3 separate regions of the Homo sapiens genome follow, and regions 1 and 2 are each linked to region 3. The links come from fine-mapping of genetic effects on plasma protein levels. A gene starts in region 3. Each other region holds a variant in brackets. All regions are shown on one strand. Distances are between the middles of the regions.

Region 1 (8,422 bases), 1.6 Mb after region 3:
TCTAAAAACATATCTGCATAATTAAAATATCTGCATAATAATGAAGCAAGATGCAGCTCTGCCAGGGGGGAGCTGGAGCCCCAGGGCTGACAGTAGGGGCAGAAGTGCAGGTGGGGTTAGGGGGCCCTGGCCCTGTGGGCCTCTGCTGCTGCTGCTTCGGCCTTGAGCAGACATTTGTCTGTCCATCCACCTCCTGCTCCAAGCAGGTGCGTCCACAGTCAGGGACCAAAAGAATCCCCTCAGCCCTGTCCTGGCACCACTCGTGGTCTGAGGGAGGCTTTGTGTGGACAGACAGTGCCTGCTACATGCATGACGGCCACCTCAGCGACTTTGTGGCCCTCACATGATGTGCTCAGAGCTTTATGGACACAGTCTCACTCACTACAACCTTCTGAGGGCATGTCTTGCCCCGACCCCACATTTTGCTGGGTTCTGAGGGATGAAGAGAAATGCAGCAGGATGGGCAGTGAGGGCCGAGCAGGGTCCGTGACTTACGTGCTGAGGGTGATGGAGACACGCCAGTGGCTGTGCTTTCCTGTCGGGTGCACTGTTGACATGCATGCCTCCTGGGACAGGACGGGCACCCAGCCTTACCCGTCCCTCAAGGCCCCTTCCTTCGCCCCTTGGCGCATCTACGCTGGACACACTTGGCTCCTGTCTCATCTTTATTTTTTCCTTAACAAATTTGTTATAGTTTTTATTAACTAATTATTATAAGACAAGGTCTCTCTATGTTGCCCAGGCTGGTCTTGAACTCTTGACCTCAAGTGATCCTCCTGCCTCGGCCTCCCAAAGTGCTGGGATTACAGGCGTGAGCCACCGCGCCTGGCCCATGGCACATCGTAAGGTTCAAACCTACTCTTTTTGTATTAACCATGTTTACACCTTAAAGATAAAATGACCACCAGAGTAACAAAAAACACTGAAACCCCAGACCACAATTCCAGCAAACAGAAGCCTGCAAGGAAAATAAACATTTCTGGCACAGAGGGTGCCTCAGGGGAAGGCTGGCATGGGAGGCCATCACCGCTGTTGGCAGCAACAGGCTCCCTGACCTTTTCCCTCACAGGACTCATGCGTCTTCTGCAAATTGATAAAAAAAATTAGTAAAATGGATTTTTTTTTTAATTTAAAAAAGGTCAGAATCCATGTAACAGGGAAAAACTCATTCGAGTTGTGGTCTCCCTCTGCAGCAGGGCAGCCGCCACTCCACCCAAGTCCAGGCTTGACACCTCCCTGTGGGTGTCACAGGCTTGGTAATCAGTGCCTGCACCCCCTCAGTCCAGCCTGGAAGGGGCAGGCTGTGCTTCAATTTCCTAGGAAAAATATGAAGAAATGAGGGGTGGCCTGTGATGGAGAAGCAGAGGGAATGACTGTGACCAGCCAGGGTGGGGAGCCTGGTATCCCAGATGCTGGAATTTCAGGTCAGACAGAATTTCCCAGAACATCCTGGGCTCCCAAGGATCCTTGCTATGTTGTATTTTGCCAAGAGAGGACACTTAAAAAAACTCCCACTCTCTCTTATTACTGTTATGTTACCAAAAAGTGAACGTTTTATTTTTATTTTCAGTTTTGTTTTTTTTGAGATGGAGTCTTGCTCTGTTGCCCAGGCTGGAGTGCAGTGGTGCGATCTGAGCTCAATGCAACCTCTGCCTCCTGGGTTCAGGCGATTCTCCTGCCTCAGCCTCCCGAGTAGCTACAGGCGCCCACCACCACGCTTGGATAATTTTTGTATTTTTAGTTTCACCATGTGGCAACAGGGTTTCACCATGTTGCCCAGGCTGGTCTTGAACTCCTGACCTCAAGTCATCCGCCTGCCTTGGCCTCCCAAAGTGCTGGGATTACAGTTGTGAGCCACTGCATCCGGCCAAAGTGGACGTTTTAACATCAAGAGGAGGAAGGCCATGAGCTCTGGGATCCCTTCCCAAGGAAGTAAAGGAAGTGGCACTCACAGGTGGTAACAAGTATTCCACTGGCTTTCATTGCTTTTTTGCTTTAAACTGGAACCACAATCAATACAGAAAGAGGTCGGGTGTGTCCTGGGACAGGAGCCAAATGTGTCCAGTGTGAACAGGGAGAGGGTGAGGCAAGGGGCCTCTGTGGCTGGGCTGAGCATTTGCAGAAACCAGCTTGAATTTACAGACCAGTTTTCTGGAAATGGGAGTGAAACCCACCCTCTAGAGATTTTTACTCTGCAGCAGCAGGCTGACTCAGGAGGACGTGTGGGTGGACCTGGACAACCACGTGCTGCAGGAAAGGTCTGGTCTCAGGGCTGCAGGTCTCTGCCTTACCCAGTCCCCTGCTGAGCTCCCAGGTCTCCTGTTGAGCACTTGCAAGAGATGCCCCAATGAGAAATAAACCAATACATGCAACAAACTGCTTCAGGTCCACATTTGAACTGTGGCTTCAGAGCCCAGCCATATGAAGGCACCTCACCCTCAAGGAACCCAGAGCTGAAGGCTACTCCAGGCTGCTGGGGCTCTTTCCAAGATATTGCCCTGCTCAGCCCCATCCCACAGGGGCTCAAACGGGTGGGAATCCACCAACCTAGCTGGCACCCCAGCATGAAACTTACCCATTTCTGCAGGTCAGTCAGTCCCTGGCAACCCAGGTGGAATTTATCAGAATTCTGCCAGTTTTGTGTCAGTTTCCCTCCCCCTAAATTATGATCCATAATTCATCAACATTTCTCTCATCCTTAGAAAAAACCATGCAGATAGCATTGGGTGAGGGTACCCATCCAGGGGCCGTCGGCCACTCTGGCTAGGGGAGCAGGGACACATCCTTATCTGAGTGCTCTGTGGGGCATGGTGCTGCCTCCTGTCCCCTCATCAGTCCCCATTCTAGAGATATGTGTGGGCACGGGGGTGGTCGTTGAGTGTGACAGTGCCCTCCTCCCTTGTCCAGCCACAGAGGCCAAGGTACCCAAGTTCCTAGGGCTTGGCAATTGACCCAGCACATAATTTGGGGAGCACTGCCCTCACCTCTCTGTACCTTGATCTCTCATCTATAACAGGGAGGGACCAAAACACTGCCAGGGCCCCTCCCAGGGCTGTGAGGATGTGGATGGAGAGCAGGGCATAGACAGCGAACGGGATGGGGACTCACTTTGGAAACTGGAGACACAACTCCAGGTTCTGGGTTGCTCCTTCCCTTACCTCACTCCAGGGGCCTCCTGACTGGTTCCCCCTCCCCCAAACTCAGCTTCTCTCTAGGGCCTTCTAAACTTGGCCTGACCTGTTTTCTTCTTCAGTTTATGCCAACGGGCTGCCCTTCTCCTCAGCACCAACTTCGCTGGAGATCTTGTTCATTACCCCCCTGCAGCCCTGCTTGGCTTCCAGCCCTACTCCCATGACCCCTTCCTTGCCTTCCTGACCAGACCTCTCCCAAGCCCTGCAACCCACCTTCAGACTCCCAACCAAAGCTGGTTATCATGAACTCATCTGCCCCAGCCCCCACACCTTCAGGTTTCCCCATCAAGTTCTGTGACCTGTCTGTGTTTCCCGGATGCCTGGACCACTCCTCCCTTCCTAACATTATCCTTTACCAGGCTCTGCCAACCTCATCTCTCTTCTACCACACTGACATTGAAGTTTGCCTTCCTGCCATGCTGCGGTTCCAAAGCCTTGTTTGTGCTGTATCCCAAGCCTGGAGTGTCCTTTCTCATCCCCTCCCCTGGCTAGCTCCTCCTCATCCTGTAGGAGCCACTGCTCTTCTGCCTCCTCCAGGAATCCTGGTGCCCTGTAGGGCTGGGTTCCCACAATTGCCCTGGGGTTTCCATCACTGCATGTGCCTGATTCCCTCCCAGATGTGGTCCCTTGAAGGCAGGGACTTGATTCATGGATCTGTGTGGCCCCAGTGCTGGGCAAGCCAGCTCAGTGAGGAAATGCTAAGTGACCTCAGGCTCCCATCACAGTCAAGGGGTCAGGGGGTGGATCAGGAGTTGCCCTTGGGGATCTGCTGGTTTGGAGGCCCTGGGTTTCATTGGGATAGAGATGGCAGAAACCCGGTCAGAAATGGTACTGATGACAGAGAATAGGGATCCAAGATGGTGTGGGGGGTGAAGGTGTGAGTGGGGTGAGGCTGAATCTAAGTACAGGCCTCACTGTGTTCTCCACGAAGAGGCATGCGAGGGGCAGCCTCTGGGGTCTGAACTGCTGAAGTCTGCTCTCCAGGACCACAACTCCACTCTGGACCTTGTGAAAATGTTACCCATTAGCCCCACCCAGCTGCTGCCAGGTCAGTAATAACATGGTTATTAGCAGAAGTCCCCGGGGCTCTGCTGGAATGAGAGGCAGAGGGTGGTGGACAGGAGTGCCTCATCTGGCCAGGTCAGCCAGGAGCTGAGTCCCCAGGGAGCTCAGCACCCCTGCCCTGGTGCCAGATCAGTGCATTCTCCTGACATGCCCCAACATCCTCCTCCAAGAAGCCTTCTCAGATGCCTCTATGCCCACCATGGCTCAGGGGCAGGACATGGGAGGGTGACAGTTCCCATGGGAAGAGGTTGATATGACTCTCCTTCCTTCCTGTCAACACATGTTTACTGAGCACCTACTGTGTGCAGTAAACTGGCCTGAGGAGGTCAGTGAGCATTACAGACATAGCCCTGCTCTTAC[G/A]TGGGGTGCCAGCAGTAAGTTCTTCTTTATAGTCCACCTAACTTCTTCCCACTGCAATTCAGTCCCACTGCCCTGAGCAGAGAACTTGCTAGAGGCCTCTACAGGAAGAGCTGCCTGGAATGGCACCGTCACTGGAAGAATTTAGGGTGCTAGGAAGCTCCCCTGCATGGGAATGTATTCCCACCTGAAAGCTGAGAGTGAGACCCCACCCCAGCTAGAACAAGAGAGCCTGAGTCCCAGCCCAACCTCCAGGCTCCCTTCCCATGATGTTATTTTTATACTTTTTCCTAAAACACAGCCTAAGCGGGCCCTTCTCAGCTCTATTAACATTAGGAATCTAATCAGTAATCAGACAGCTCATAATTTTCTGATTAGCTTTGATTAGGCCCAACCTCAGGAGAAGGAGTGGGACAGTGAAGAGGGAGGTGGGGACAAAAGGGCCCTGAAATGTGCCCGATGGGGCACTGGTTGGGCTGGGGGTGGAGGGTAGTGGAGAAGAACCTCTAGCCCCATTGTTGCCTGTTTTGGGGAAGGGACGTGGAATGGAGTCGTGGGTTGCACTGGGTCAAACAGGTTGCAGGGTCAGAGAGCAAGGGCCGTGGTGGGGAGGGGGGTGGGGGCGAGCCCAGCCCACCTAGGCAGCAGGAACACCAGAGCAAGCAGCTTGGGCGAAGACTTTCAGCACCATGGACAGAGGTAGGGAGGAGCGTCAGGGCTGGGTTTGGGCAACCACCTGGGTGTTATCTTGCCCAGGCCCCCTCATTCCTCGGTGGCACTCAAGGAATGATCCCAGGCATAACCTTGAGTAATGGTGACAGTGACAGAAACGGTAGGTCTGCTCAGTGGGCTGAAATATGTGACCTTGGACCTGGAGAACTGGCCCTGGGCACTCTTACTAAACACACCACAGGCAGGGCCTGCCTTGACAATCATCCCTTCAAGGTGAAGACAACAAGGTCAGGGGCCCACTGGCCCCCCCATACAAAGGGGGAACTGAGGCCTGGAGGGACTGTCAGGCCACTGTACCATTAGGGACAGAGCTTGGACCTGTACTGAGGCATCCCAGGCCAGGGCCAGATCTCTCTCCTGTTTAAGGCCTGTTTGTAGCTTTTGCATCACATGCTCAGATGGAACCATGGTGCTAGCCAAACCAGACTTCCTAGGCCTGCCACTCATGCACTCTGACCCCTGCTCTGACCCTGTTCCTGGCGATCATGAGAACTCTCCAATCTCTACCCCCTATCCATTGCCCTTCCCCACAGATTCAGACTTCTTGTAGCCACATCCTGGAGCCCTATTCAGGTCAGAGTCAGAGTGGCTCTGCCCCTGCCCCCTGGTCTGGGATCACAGGTCATTGCCCTTTGTCAGATGCAGCCATCCAGGTGACCGCTAATGAAATACACGAACCCATTGGAGAAGACATGCACAGCTAATGCCATGCAAATTGGCACAGAGGCAATCAGCCTGACTCTAAAAGCTGCCCCACTGGCCGCAGGCTGGCTCATTGTCTTTTCTGTCAATTTGCATCTCATTACCCAGAAGGCTGTGCTCACTGGAGGTTAAAAGAAAAAAAGCACCAAGCAAGCCCCACTGTGTCCTGCCTCCAGCAAGGGCAAAGCCCACGAGTGGGACAGGGCTGCCTGGAGGACTGCCCCTCAGAGGTACACTCCACAGGGAGCCCCCCATCAGCCCTATCACCCCCATCACCCACCATCAATATTATCCCTGCACCACCAGAATGCTACTCCATTCACCATCATCCCCATCATCACTGTTGTTCCCCCCACTTAACCAGCACCAATGTCCCCATGTTCACTGCCAACATCCTCCCCATCACCATTGCCAATATTACTCCATCATCATCAGTGTTACTCCCATCACCATCAGCTCCACCATCACTACCTTCATCCCCATCACCATAGTCATCACTTCCATCATCACCATCTTCATCTACCACCATCAACTCTACTGCCAACATCACTTCCATCACCACCTTTACCATCACTGTCACCACTACGACCATCACCCCACTGTGGTCACCTCTGCTAGTGCTCATGTCTCCTGGTAATCACCACTACCACTGTGCTCACTGCTACCTGCACCATCACCTCTGTATCCCTGAGAAGAGTCTGATGAAGAGACAGAGACAACTCATTCTTCACCTTTCTCTGTCCATCACCCTCCAGCATCATCAGAGGGTTGGGGAACCTGTAAACAAATGACTCAGTGACCAGAGAGCTCATAATCAACCTGGATATTGGTGCTTGTATCTAGGTACCTTGACCTAGGTGCTTGATCTAGGTATCTGTGACCTTGGACATGGAGAACTGGCCCTGGGCACTCTTACTAAACACACCACAGGCAGGGTCTGCCTTGATGATCATCCCTTCAAGGTGAAGACAACGAGGTCAGGGGCCCACTGGCCCCCCTATACAAAGGGGGAGCTGAGGCCTGGAAGGACTGTCAGGCCACTGTACCATTAGGGACAGAGCCTGGACCTGTACTGAGGCATCACAGGTCAGGGCCAGATCTCTCTCCTGTTTAAGGCCTGTTTGTGGCTTTTGCATCACATGCTCAGATGGAACCATGGTGCTGGCCAAATTAGACTTCCTAGGCCTGCCACTCGTGGGCTCTGACCCCTGCTCTGACCCTGTTCCTGGCGATCATGAGGGCTTCAGGAGGAAAGCCCTCAAGGCCAGGGGGTGGAATGGGTGCTTGTCCACTCTACCAGGGCCCCTGAAGAGACTGGGGCTTAGCTTACTCTCCTGGTTCTAGTAGGACCTGGGACTGGGCAGACAGTGACCAGCAGCCACAGTACCCCATGGGGCAGAGCCAGGAGCTGCATGTGTAATGCACAGAACTGATACCATTCTCTGAATCCTGATAACCTCCTCCCTAACACGGGGCTTCTACTAGTCCCAGCCTCATAAGACTGTGAGGATGAAGGCAGACATGAGAGGAGAACAGTGAGCATCCAAGGCTGTCTCAAAGGGCACATAAACCCTATGGGAGAGGAGTATGGTTAGGCTAAGCCAGGTGGGCTTTGGGAAAGGGAGCACCAGGCAAAACTTGAAGGGCAAGGTCAGATGAAGGGGATAAGGGAAGTAATGCCCAGAGGGCAAAGATGTGGGGGTAGGAAGGAGGGCAGTGGAGGCCAGGGGAGCTGATTTAGGCCTTCGATTCTCCTGGGCCTCCCTGGACTCAGGGATTGGTGCGGTAGGTGTTTGTGCTTATGAACATGGCCCAGCCTCTTCCACAGGACCTCATTTCATTATCTGCACCTTGCTTCACACACATGCTTCCAAAAAGCCCCAAGAAGCCCAATCATTATTCCCATTCCCCCGACGAGGTCACCAAGGCTCAGAGAGGGTGACTCACCCACCCAAGACCACACAATGATCAAATGGCAGAGCTCAAACTGAATCCAGCTTTGTCCATGCCAGGGATGGGCTCTGACAACTCCCTGTGTCCCTGGGCAGCAAGGCGGGATATGAACCTAGGCCAAGACAAAGCCAGGGCTCCCTGCACAGGTCATCCAGAAGAGTGGGAGCAGGAGCCAGACTCTTCCAGCTAGGCTGTCACTCTGCTGGATGTGGACGCCTGAGGCTCCACCTTGTCGCTGCCCACCAGCTTTGGGACACAAAGCCAAGCACTGGTTGGCCCGGGGATGATGCTGAGGGCCCAGGCAGAGGTGACAGGCAGACAAAGGGCTGGAGGTGGTGGGCAGGGAGGGCACAGCCTGGCTGCCAGGTGGAAATGCCCAGGGTAAGAGCTGCTCTGAATACTGGCTGCATCCTGCTGCTGCA
Region 2 (2,998 bases), 82 kb before region 3:
GCAAGAGATCTGCACGTGTCAGTAAGACGGACGTCAATAAGCTTCAGAGGACTACATAATAGTCCTCTGAAGTATGATCTATTACCTGGTAATAAGAGCTCCCAACAGTGGGAGAACATAGAAGGTTTTTTGGTTTTTTTTTGAAATGGAGTCTTGCTCTGTTGCCCAGGCTGGAGGCAGTGGCGCAATCTCGACTCACTGAAACCTTTGCCTCCTGGGTTCCAGCAATTCTCCCGCCTCAGCCTCCCAAGTAGCTGGGATTACAGGCATGGGCCACCACACCCAGCTAATTTTTGTATTTTTAGTAGAGATGGAGTTTTACCATGTTGGCCAGGCTGGTCTTGAACTCCTGGCCTCAAGTGATCCACCTGCCTCAGCCTCCCGAAGTGTTGGGATTACAGGCGTGAGCCACTGCGTCCGGCAAGAAGTTTTTGAGATAAATGATGTACTAGTTCTTCAGGGGTGACTTCCAGGAAAGGAGCTGCGTAAAGCCCTCACTCACCTGAGTGATTATGCGTTCTCCATCCTTA[T/C]AGATCTTCTCTCCTATTACATCCACAATCTTCATTCGTTCTGACACCTGAAACAACAAATTCACAAATAAAAGGAAAAGACCTTAATTGAAAGTCACAATAGCTATGCAGCACAGAAATAGGATTAGAATAGTATGATTTGAAAACCTAACAACAGAATAGTTTTAAAAGCTTTTCCTGATCCCCATGAACAGATTCTTATTCAAGCCACTTTACCTCTAGTGATTTAAGGAGGGGCACAGACTCAATAAATGATTCAAACATCTTCCTCTTCTTTGCATTATTTTTCACTATGATTCTTCTAAAAGTCACCCGGTCCTACAAGAAAGAATATGAAAATTCTAGTAAATGCCTATATACAGGAACATCTATGGTTTAATTAACTGGCCAAAGCAAATATTAGAGGAATATGTAAGTTACTGTGTTAATTAAGTGTTTAATGATACTTCAATCTTGAGTCATCACTGGAAGTAAAGGACCTATAGCCTGAGCCAGCCAGATGCCCACATGCTGTTGCTTGCTATCTAGCACTCAATAGGTGCCACCTATGGGTCATAAATAGAACCCAAAACAGAAAACACCTAAACATTTATGAGCTCACTGTCACTGTTCAATATCAAAAAAGACACCTCTAGTGAGCCGAGATCATGTCACTGCACTCCAGCCTGGGTGACAGAGTGAGACCCTCATTTCAAAAAAAAAAAAAAAAAAAAAAAAGAGACACCTCACCAAAAGAGAGAATAAAACAATCATTTAATCCTTAGAATCCAGGATTTAAAAAAACTTAAAAAATCCAAAACAATTAGATTGTTCTTGCCTAAAAAAAGAACAATTAGATTGTTCTTACCCTAAAAAAGTTTACAATCTTAATGGGGAGATAATATAAAATATCAAAATATGAAGGTTGGCTGAATGCAGTGGCTCACTGCCTGTACTCCTAGCATTTTGGGAGGCTAAGGTGGGCAAATTGCTTGAGCCCAGGAGTATGAGACCAGCCTAGGCAACATGGTGAAACACGCTCTCTACGAAAAAATACACAAAAAAAGTTAGCTGGGCATGGTGGCACTTGTCTGTACTTGGGTGGCTGAGGTGAAAGGCTCACCAGAGCCTGAGAGGTCAAAGCTGCAGTGAGTTGTGATTGTACCACTGCATTCCAGCCTGGGCAGCAGAGTGACACTATGTCCCAAAAACAACAATATCAACAACAACAACAACAACAACAAAATACATAGGAATAAAAAGTCTACATTTCAAGGACAGGTGCAGTGGCTCACACCTGTAATCCCAGCATTCTGGGAGGCTGAGTCAGACAGATCACTTGAGCTCAGGAGTTCAAGACCAGGCTGTGCAACATGGTGAAACCCCATCTCTACAGAAAATACAAAAATTAGCTGGGCATGGTGGCGTTTGTCTAGTCCCAGCTAGTTGGGAGGCTGAGGCTGGAGAATCACTTGAGCTCAGGAGGCTAAGGTTGCAGTGAGCTGAGATTGCGCCACTGCACTCCAGCCTGGGTGACATAAGTTGAAACTGTGTCTCAAAAAAAAATAAAATAAAAATAAAAAGTCTACAGTTCAAGACAGCATATGAGCATATGAAATGTGCTTGATGAAACTACAGAAGACAAGTGCCACATAAATTTCAAGGTAAGAAGGGGAGATCACAGTAGGCAGGAGTGATCAAAGATTATTTTGCAGCAAAAATGTCTAGGACCTGAAAGAGAGGTAGGATTTAAGTTAATGGAGAGACACGGGAGGAATACGCAAGATGGAAGGCAGGCATATGAAAGATACCTTGACTCTAGCAAGTCATGGATTCCTTCTGTTTTATTTTGAGATAGGGTCCCCCAATGTTGTCCAGGCTGGCTTTGAACTCCTGGGGTCAAGTGATCTCCCCACCTCAGCCTCCCAAGTAGCTGGGACTACAGGTACACAACACTGTGCCTGGCTTAGTAAGTAATGGATTCTGATCAGAAGACAGTTAACCAAACCAGGCACTTCTCAGATATGTGTACACATGTGCAGGGAGATACATGTGAGAATGTTAATTGCTTAGTCTTAGATTCCTAAATGGGCAAGCAGTTATTTGTATCTAAGTTAACTACCTTTCTTCCACCTCAGGCTGTCAGGACTATACATATATACATTTTGTCAGAAAGTATAATAATGGGCTGGGCGCAGTGGCTCACGCCTGTAATCCCAGAACTTTGGGAGGCCGAGGCAGACGGATCGCTTGAGGTCAGGAGTTCAAGACCAGCCTGGCCAATATGGTGAAACCACATCTCTACTAAAAATACAAAAATTAGCCAGGCATGGTGGTGGGCGCCTGTAATCCCAGCTTCTTGGGACGCTGAGACAGGAGAATCACTTGAACCTGGGAGGCAGAGGTTGCAGTGAGCCGAGATCATGCCACTGCACTCCAGCCTGGGTAACAGAGCGAGACCCTGCCTCGAAAAAAACAAAAACAAAACA
Region 3 (8,342 bases):
CACAATGAGATACCATCTCACACCAGTTAGAATGGCAATCATTAAAAAGTCTGGAAACAACAGGTGCTGGAGAGGATGTGGAGAAATAGGAACACTTTTACACTGTTGGTGGGACTGTAAACTAGTTCAACCATTGTGGAAGTCAGTGTGGCGATTCCTCAGGGATCTAGAACTAGAAATACCATTTGACCCAGCCATCCCATTACTGGGTATATACCCAAAGGACTATAAATCATGCTGCTATAAAGGCACATGCACACGTATGTTTATTGCAGCACTATTCACAATAGCAAAGACTTGGAACCAACCCAAATGTCCAACAATGATAGACTGGATTAAGAAAATGTGGCACATATACACCATGGAATACTATGCAGCCATAAAAAATGATGAGTTCATGTCCTTTGTAGGGACATGGATGAAATTGGAAACCATCATTCTCAGTAAACTATCGCAAGGACAAAAAACCAAACACCGCATGTTCTCACTCACAGATGGGAATTGAACAATGAGAACACATGGACACAGGAAGGGGAACATCACACTCTGGGGACTGTTGTGGGGTGGGGGGAGGGATAGCATTAGGAGATATACCTAATGCTAAATGACGAGTTAATGGGTGCAGCACACCAGCATGGCACATGTATACATATGTAACTAACCTGCACATTGTGCACATGTACCCTAAAACTTAAAGTATAATAAAAAAGAAAAAAAACTTGTAAACTTTTACTCATCTGAGGCTAATTTCTAAAATCCTAAAGTGTTGTGTAAATAAAAATTGTCTCAAAGCAGGTTACTGCTTTGTGATTTACAGAGATGACAGTGAAACAAACCTGAAATAAAGCTTTTAAAAACAAATTTGTCCCTGGAAGATTGTTGTCACTGTCCTCAACTTAAAGATAAGAAAATCTGAGATCAAACAGGTTTGAGAATTTGTCCAAGACCACAAAGCAAACCTGTGGCAGAGTTTAGAAAATAATTTCTGATTTCCCAAAAACCCATGATGTAATGTGCAATAAATCAAGGGAAACCCAGAAGAGCCCTTGTTACTCCTTTAGCATGAATACACTTAGGGAGATTGCCCAGTGCACTGAAGCTTGTGACCTCCCACAGCAATGACCGTTAATTAACTCCTTCCCTGCCGTGACTTGAATACTGGGCCAGACCAGATACAACTCAGAACTAGTTTTGTGTGTGTGTGATCTAATAACACTAAGATCCTAACTTGGCCTCTCAAATGGTTTCATTGTTTTGTTAAATTTTAGTTGTTCAAAAGTAGGCCAATTCTACTGTTAAATTGACAAAGCATATGTTGAAGCAACCAAGGAAACTGTAATAGCTTCTTAACACTCTTGCGTAGATCAGATGTAGAAAGTGTTATTTTGGACAGGAGCAGTAGCTCATGCCTGTAATCCTAGCACTTTGGGAGGCCAAGGCAGGAGCATTACTTGAGGCCAGGAGTTCAAGACCAGCCTGGGCAACACAGGGAGACCCCGTCTCTATAAAACACTTAAAATTAGTAAGGCATGGTGGCACATGCCCTTAGTCCCAGCTACTTGGGAGGCCCAGGTGGGAGGATACCTTGAGCTTGTGAGGTTGGGGTTGCAGTGAGCCCTGATTGTGCCACTACACCCCAGCCTGGGTGACAGAGCGAGATCCTGACTTTAAAAAAAAAAAAAGGTGTGATGATCTTGGATCACCAAATCTGTGAGGGGAGGGACAGTCTCCAACTTGTTTCCTGCTCGGTCCTTATTGCGTACTCTTGGAGTTTATTGCAAACTCTTGGAGAAGGTTTACTATTACTAAATGATAAATCCTGACACAGCAAGTAGAGCCAATGAAGCTGCTCTCCTGATCTCAGTCTCTGCTGGGATCCTTTCCTTTAAAGCTACAACCCACCCACTAAACAAGAATATAGTTACTGGGTTTTTCCTTTTTCTTTTTTTTTTTTTTTGAGACGGAGTTCGCTCTGTCGCCCAGGCTGGAGTGCAGTGGCATGATCTTGGCTCACTGCAACCTCCGCCTCCCAGGTTCAAGCGATTCTCCCTGCCTCAGCCTCCCAAGTAGCTGGGACTACAGACGCCCGCCACCACGCCCGGCTAATTTTTGTATTTTTAGTAGAGACGGGGTTTCGCCATGTTGGCCAGGCTGGTCTCGAACTCCTGACCTCAGGTGATCCACCCGCCTCGGCCTCCCAAAGTGCTGGGACTACAGGCGTGACCCACCACGCCCGGCCAGGTTTTTCGTTTTCAAAAATGAGGTAGGGTGTCTATTTTGCCCAGGCTGGTCTCGAACTCTTGGATTCAAGCGATATTTCCTCCTCAGCCTCCAGAGTAGCTGGTATAGACTATAGGGGCCCACTGCCCCGGCCGGCAAGATAATTATTTACTCTCACCAAATTTGATTCAATCGTTTTGGCCAAGTTTTTAAAAATAGGAATATTCCCAGGGACCATGTTTGAAGAAATACAAACTCAAGTAAGCAGAGGTGAAATGACCTGAGAGATTTGCTTTAATACACTTCGGCAAAGAAAGAAAAAAGGTATGGATGAAACTTTGTGACAAACGCAACTGTTAAATGTAGGTGATGGCATATAGGGATTCATCTCACCTTTCCTCTTTTGTCTATGCTTAAAAGTTTTCACAGTAACTTTTCAAAAAAAATTATTATTTCCAAACAAACTTACTGTCCTATCAATTAAACACAAGTCACTGGATGAGAACGCTGTTGTCTTCGAAGCCAAAACTGGTGAAGGGTCTTAAGCAAAGGCGAGGGATCCTCTAGCAGGGCCGACAGCGCGCACGTTTCCTTCAAGGCTGGATCTGACAAATCACTCGGTGCGCTCTAGGGCTCGCAGGATCGCGGAGCTCAATTTGGAAGTGGCGCACGCGGGCTCACGCCGGTGTCTCAGGGAAACGCTAGAAACGCGGCTACAGAGCTCCCAATCCCAGCCTGCGGTCGGCTTGGCTGCGGCGCGACACCTGGCTCCCTGCCACCCCTCTAGACCTCTGGAGACCTCCTGCACCACTCCCCAGGGCCCCGCCCACAGCCTACCTTCCAAGTCCTCGTCCTCCTCCGACTCGCTGTCCCCTTTGGCGTCGGCGACACGGTCCGGGCCGGGTTCTGGCGGGGGGTGGCCCAGGCTCTGGCGTGGGGTGGCGGCGGGCAGGACTGAGGCTGGGGCGCGGGCCTCGCGCAGGCGGGTGAAGTACTCCACTGCGAATTCGACGAGGTCAGGCGGCTGCTGTCGCAGCACCTCCACCGTGTAGCCCTGCAGCAGCTCCGTGAGCCCCGGCGGGATCTGGATGTGGCTCATGCCGGCGGCGGCCGAAGGGATAGACGGGTTGGGCCGCCGGCGGCCACTGTCTCCGCGCTCACTCACGCCGGCCTTTCGCTCCGCGCCCGCGAGGTCTCTTCGCGCACGGCCCCGGCTCACGTCGCGCCGCTCTTTGGCCGGCTCTGCGTTTCCGGGCCGCGCAACCCTACGCTACCACGGCCGACCTGGCACCGCCGCCGCTGTCACTGGGCAGCCGCCGCCGCCGCGGGGACCGACGGGCAGGCGAGCTGGACGGGCGGGGCAGGCGTCCTGGTTGTGACGCACGCCACCGCGGGCGTGCGCGTCCCCGCTTAGCACCGGCCCTCAGTGCGCTTGCGCCACTAGATGACCCGCCCCCTCGGGCTGTCGGGGGGTCGAGACAGTGGAGTGTTCCTGATGCCAGCTCACGGAGGGAATCCAGGGAATTAGGTAATGAACGGTCTACCCATGAAGGGGACCGATTAGTGCCTCTCGCCTGGTCCTGAAGACCTTTAAATTATTCTTTCAGCTGATGCCAAGAGCCTCTTTTTGGCCAGCACTTACTAAGCACCAGAGACACAGCGAGAAGCAGAAGCATACGAGCACATCAGTGTGATTCTGCTGTGATGAAGGGCAAGAGAGGGCTCACTTTCCGGCGTGACATTCAAGCTAGCCCCGAGGCCTGAGCAGGACCCGCCCAGGGGAAGATCTGGAGGAAAGCCATCTGAACATACAACAAGAGCAAAGGCCTGGTGGAGTCAAGACCACCTTGGCTGCCAGGTGGAATGGTGGAATAACTCAGGAGTCTGTCAGGTCTCTGAGATGTCAAACGGGTAAGGCCTTGTAGGAAGTAGGCGTTTGAATGAGATCATAATTTGAGAGCCACAGACAGAAAAATAAATTTGAAAGAGTTCACTCAGCCAAATGTGTACAGTGAGAAAGGGAAATAAGGCCAAAAGCAGCAAAGACCTCTGTGCCTGTTCCTCCTGGAGCACTTTCACCAGGGTCCCCAGATCTAGGTCTGCCCATTCCTCTCCCCACATTCTACACTGGGCCCTAGGTCAACACTGCTTGATGAAGTTGAGCAGACCACAGGCATTGTTATCCTTTGCCCCTGGGAAGATGGTATAGGTGAACTGTAGAGGCCAGACTATTTCCCAAATTGCCCTCCTCCTCCTACCAAACTGGAAGGGTATTGAAAAAGGTGGAGACCTTCCTGGGATGTCCAGTCTACAGCCTACGTGCTAACCAAAGGCCCACTGGGCATAGAGCAGAGTCCCCCTCTCCTTACAGGCCTAGCCAGGAAGAGAGTAGCTGTAGGTTTGGGAACCTGAGGGCATTTGGGATGCTTAAACACCGCCTGGTAATTACTCAGTATTAATTAAAATCCTCCCTATCACCTCCCATACAGGCTTGGCACACACCCAGGAGCTCAATGCTGCTGGGAGCTGAGCAGCTGGGAGCAAGGAGCCCTCATCCCCACTGATGAAGAGGCCAGCCCAGGTTCTAGGCTAAGCAGGCCTGTGATTATAAACAGCAGTGTCTCCCTGGACAAGTTTCTTGACCCTGAGAAGAATGTTAGACCATCAACTTTGTGAGGGGACAGGCAGTCTCCAACTTTTTTCCTGCTCAGTCCTTATTGCATACTCTTGGAGAAGGTCTACTGACTTGTTCTCAGATGCCCCACGGCTCAGCCAACCACCCATCCAGCAGAGCATTCAAAAGGCATCTGGAAGGAATGAGGGCGACCGTTCTGCCAGGCCCCTATTTTTTTTTGAGAGGAGTCTCACTCTGTCGCCCAGGCTGGAGTGCAATGGCATGACCTCTGCTCACTGCAAGCTCTGCCTCCCAGGTTCAAGCGATTCTCCTGTCTCAGCCTCCCAAGTAGCTGGTACTACAGGCGTGCACCACCACACCCAGCAAATTTTTTCTATTTTTAGTAGAGATGGGGTTTCTCCATGTTGGCCAGGATGGTCTCAATCTCTTGACCTCGTGATCCACCCGCCTCAGCCTCCCAAAGTGCTGGGATTACAGGCGTGAGCCACCGCACCTGGCTTTTTTTTTTTCTTTTAGATGGAGTCTTCCTTTTGTCGCCCAAGGTGGAGTGCAATGGCACGATCTCAGCTCACTGCAACCTCCACCTCCCAGGTTCAAGCAATTCTCCTGCATCAGCCTCCTGTGTAGCTGGGATTATAGGCACCTGCCACCATGCCCAGTTAATTTTTGTATTTTCAGTAGAGACGGGGTTTTGCCATGTTGGCCAGGATGGTCTCGAACTCCTGACCTAGGGATCTGCCCGCCTTAGCCTCCCAAAGTTCTGGGATTACAGGCGTGAGGCACTGCACCTGGCCATTTTGTTTGTTTGGGTTTGTTTTTGAGATGGAGTCTTGCTCTGTTGCCCAGGCTGGAGTGCAGTGGCATGATCTCGGCCCATTGCAAGCTCCACCTCCCGGGTTCATGCCATTCTCCTGCCTCAGCCTCCAGAGTAGCTGGGACTACAGGCGTGCGCCACCATGCCCAGCTAATTTTTTGTATTTTTTAGTAGAGACGGGGTTTCACCATGTTAGCCAGGATGGTCTGGATTTCCTGACCTCATGATCCGCCTGCCTTGGCCTCCCAAAGTGCTGGGATTACAGGCGTGAGCCACCACGCCTGGCCTGTTTGTTTTTTTGAGACACAGTCTTACTCTGTTGCCCAGGCTGGAGTGCAGTGACGCGATCTCGGCTCACTGCAACCTCCACCTCCCAGGTTCAAGCGATTCTCGTGTCTCAGCCTCCCAAGTAGCTGGGATTATAGGTGCGCACCACCACGCCCGGCTTATTTTTTGTATTTTTAGTGCAGATGGGGTTTCACCATATTGGCCAGGCTGGTCTTGAACTCCTGACCTCAGGTGATCCGCCTGCCTCAGCTTCCCAAAATGCTGGGATTACCAGCATGAGTCACCACGCCCGGCCAAGAAAGACCCATATTTTGTTTTGTTTTCTTTTTTGAGATGGAGTCTTGCTCTGTCGCTCAGGCTGGAGTGCAGTGGCGCAATCTCTGCTCACTGCAACCTCCACCTCCTGGGTTCAAGCCATTCTCCTGCCTCAGCCTCCCGAGTAGCTGGGACTACAGGCGCACACCACCACGCCTGGCTAATTTTTGTATTTTTAGTACAGACAGGGCCAGACTGGTCACGAACTCCTGACCTCAGGCGATCCACCCGCCTCAGCCTTCCAAAGTGCTGGAATTATAGGTGTGAGCCATCGCACCTGGCCACCAGACCCCCATTAACTTCAGTAGGGATGGCACCAGGTTTGAGAGGCCAAAAGAGATCCAGAGCCAGCAAACAAGACTTAGGTTTGATTGAGGGGAATTTGCATACAGAGCAGTCCAGTGGAGGTGGGCTAGATAGGAGAACTGCCCCACCTGCAGAAAGTATGCAGTATATATAGCATTTTCACTTAACACCCTCCCCCTAACAACTTTGATTTAACCCAAAACAAAGGGGCTAAATCCCCTGTACATCCACAGGACAGAATGGGGGCTCAGATATTCCTCATGGGTAAGTAATGAATCTCTGGCTTGTCCTCACTTGGAACTCCTAACACATTCAGGTGCATCTGCCATACAGGGTCATTCTCAGAGTATGCTTAAGTTATTGCTGTCAGGTGCAGCTACCATACACAGGTGTGTCTGCCATATAGCCACAGAAAGCAGGAGTCCTACAGCTGCTCCTCATGGGTCTCCATAGACTAGTCTTAGAGCAAGGATGGGCAGCCAGCCTCCAGGTTTAACCTGGCACTCTCCCCCAGCACTTGGTCCCCAGAGCAGGGGTGCATCTCTCCCACTTCTGGTCAACCCTTCAGTAACAAGTAGAGCCCCCAGGGTCTTCATGAATATCTAGTTGAACTGGCTAAAGAAGAGGGCCCTGTAACAGGACAGAACACCAGGAGCCTGAACCCCGCATCTTCTACCCTTATCCTGCATTTATCCTGCCTGCATTCAAGCCTGTCCAGCTGCACCACTGGAGGTTACCATGGCAACTAAACCCAGAGGCAGCCGGTAACTGAGATACAGCTGCCAAGAGCAACTGATGGTGGAAAAGGCCAACAGCAGAGACTCTTAGAAGGAAGAGAAGTACACAGGAGGAGGCCCCAGAACCCTGAGGGTGCTACACTCAAATCTAATCCTACTCACAACTCAGCAGGCAGTCAACGTCTTGCACAAACTGCCATATCACCAACCAGAGGCACAGATATGGACACAATGGGGCCAATTTGCAGAGATGTTTGCAACTATGGATGCAGAGTAGCACAGGTGGGACACATGTTGTTTAGCCCAAAAGCAACGGGTCTTGGTGAAAACGAAAATGGGTAGGGTACCATTGCTGTTTCCAATGAAACAATGAATTTTGTGTGCTCTTGATAGGTTTGTTATTCAAACGTTTCTGTCTGTCTCTCCAAGATGAAGAGAGGGGCCTAAACTTCCCCGAACTCCTCTGAAGGCCTGCTCTTGGCTCAGATCCTCCAGCTTAAATACCTTATGCCCTCTGCATACTTGCAGGACTCAGGTCCAGCAGGAAAACCTCCCTCTTACTTGATCAAGGGACCACTTTTCTAAGCCATTCCAGTCCCCCACCCATTTCCTGGGATCCGCTGGTCACCTGACCACCTCTACATGCCAGGCCCTCCTGGATTTAGTACTCCCAGCTCACTTAGTTCCTACAAGCAACAGCTTCTATGTTGCCTTAGAAGTGTTCATGAGCCTTTAGTTGGCAAGAGAGATTGAGGAAGTGGGCTATGTTTTCTCGGCCCTTACCCAAGCTGTCTTTCAGCCTCTACTGTGGCTCCTCCAGCGAGGCCATTGCCTTTTGCCCAGGAAATCTAATCTGTTTTAACAAGTGCCCATGCTCCAGGGAGCAGTTAGCTCCCAGGCCACGTTTGTGTACCTGTGAGCCATCCCCACGCCTGAGACACTATGTCCTGAGAAAATGTCAGTCTCTGCAGTGGACCCAGGGTCTGCATCTGAGACACCTCAGGGCAAGGACAGAACCTAGAAAGCA

Which allele goes with the higher level. Positions count from the first base shown, and alleles are read on the strand shown. Strength reflects both the effect of a copy and how common the allele is.
In carriers of allele G in region 1, the plasma level of the protein whose gene starts at base 3,597 in region 3 tends to be higher than with A alone (moderate association).
As copies of T replace C in region 2, the plasma level of the protein whose gene starts at base 3,597 in region 3 goes up (moderate association).

The links. A credible set is the group of variants that fine-mapping cannot tell apart. PIP is the posterior inclusion probability: the model's chance that the variant is causal. The UK Biobank Pharma Proteomics Project read protein levels with antibody pairs (Olink). The fine-mapping took linkage between variants from a reference panel, not from the people measured, so its PIPs are less certain.
Region 1: its variant is the best candidate, but not a certain one, in a credible set for the plasma level of the PRKAR2A protein (UK Biobank, PIP 0.87).
Region 2: its variant is the best candidate, but not a certain one, in a credible set for the plasma level of the PRKAR2A protein (UK Biobank, PIP 0.88). The variant lies in the coding sequence of PRKAR2A. If it changes the protein, the assay may bind it differently, which can mimic a change of level.

What each region holds. Positions count from the first base shown.
Region 1 is chr3:50,400,144-50,408,565 of GRCh38, forward strand. All of the region lies in intron 3 of CACNA2D2 (calcium voltage-gated channel auxiliary subunit alpha2delta 2), which reads right to left. Among named protein-coding and RNA genes, the nearest start is that of TMEM115, 45 kb to the left of the region's middle. RefSeq lists enhancers at 76-576, 577-1,077 and a silencer at 5,222-5,422. The variant G/A (reference allele first, on the strand shown) is at 4,617.
Region 2 is chr3:48,764,502-48,767,499 of GRCh38, forward strand. It overlaps PRKAR2A (protein kinase cAMP-dependent type II regulatory subunit alpha), which reads right to left. Exons shown (of 11, transcript NM_004157.4): 7 at 747-848; 8 at 503-577. Among named protein-coding and RNA genes, the nearest start is that of IP6K2, 49 kb to the left of the region's middle. The variant T/C (reference allele first, on the strand shown) is at 531.
Region 3 is chr3:48,844,278-48,852,619 of GRCh38, forward strand. It overlaps PRKAR2A (protein kinase cAMP-dependent type II regulatory subunit alpha), which reads right to left and starts at 3,597. Exons shown (of 11, transcript NM_004157.4): 1 at 3,058-3,597. The coding sequence starts at 3,319. PRKAR2A-AS1 (PRKAR2A antisense RNA 1) reads left to right here and starts at 3,660. Exons shown (of 3, transcript NR_109997.1): 1 at 3,660-3,748; 2 at 3,828-4,131; 3 at 4,710-7,705. RefSeq lists a silencer at 3,410-3,739.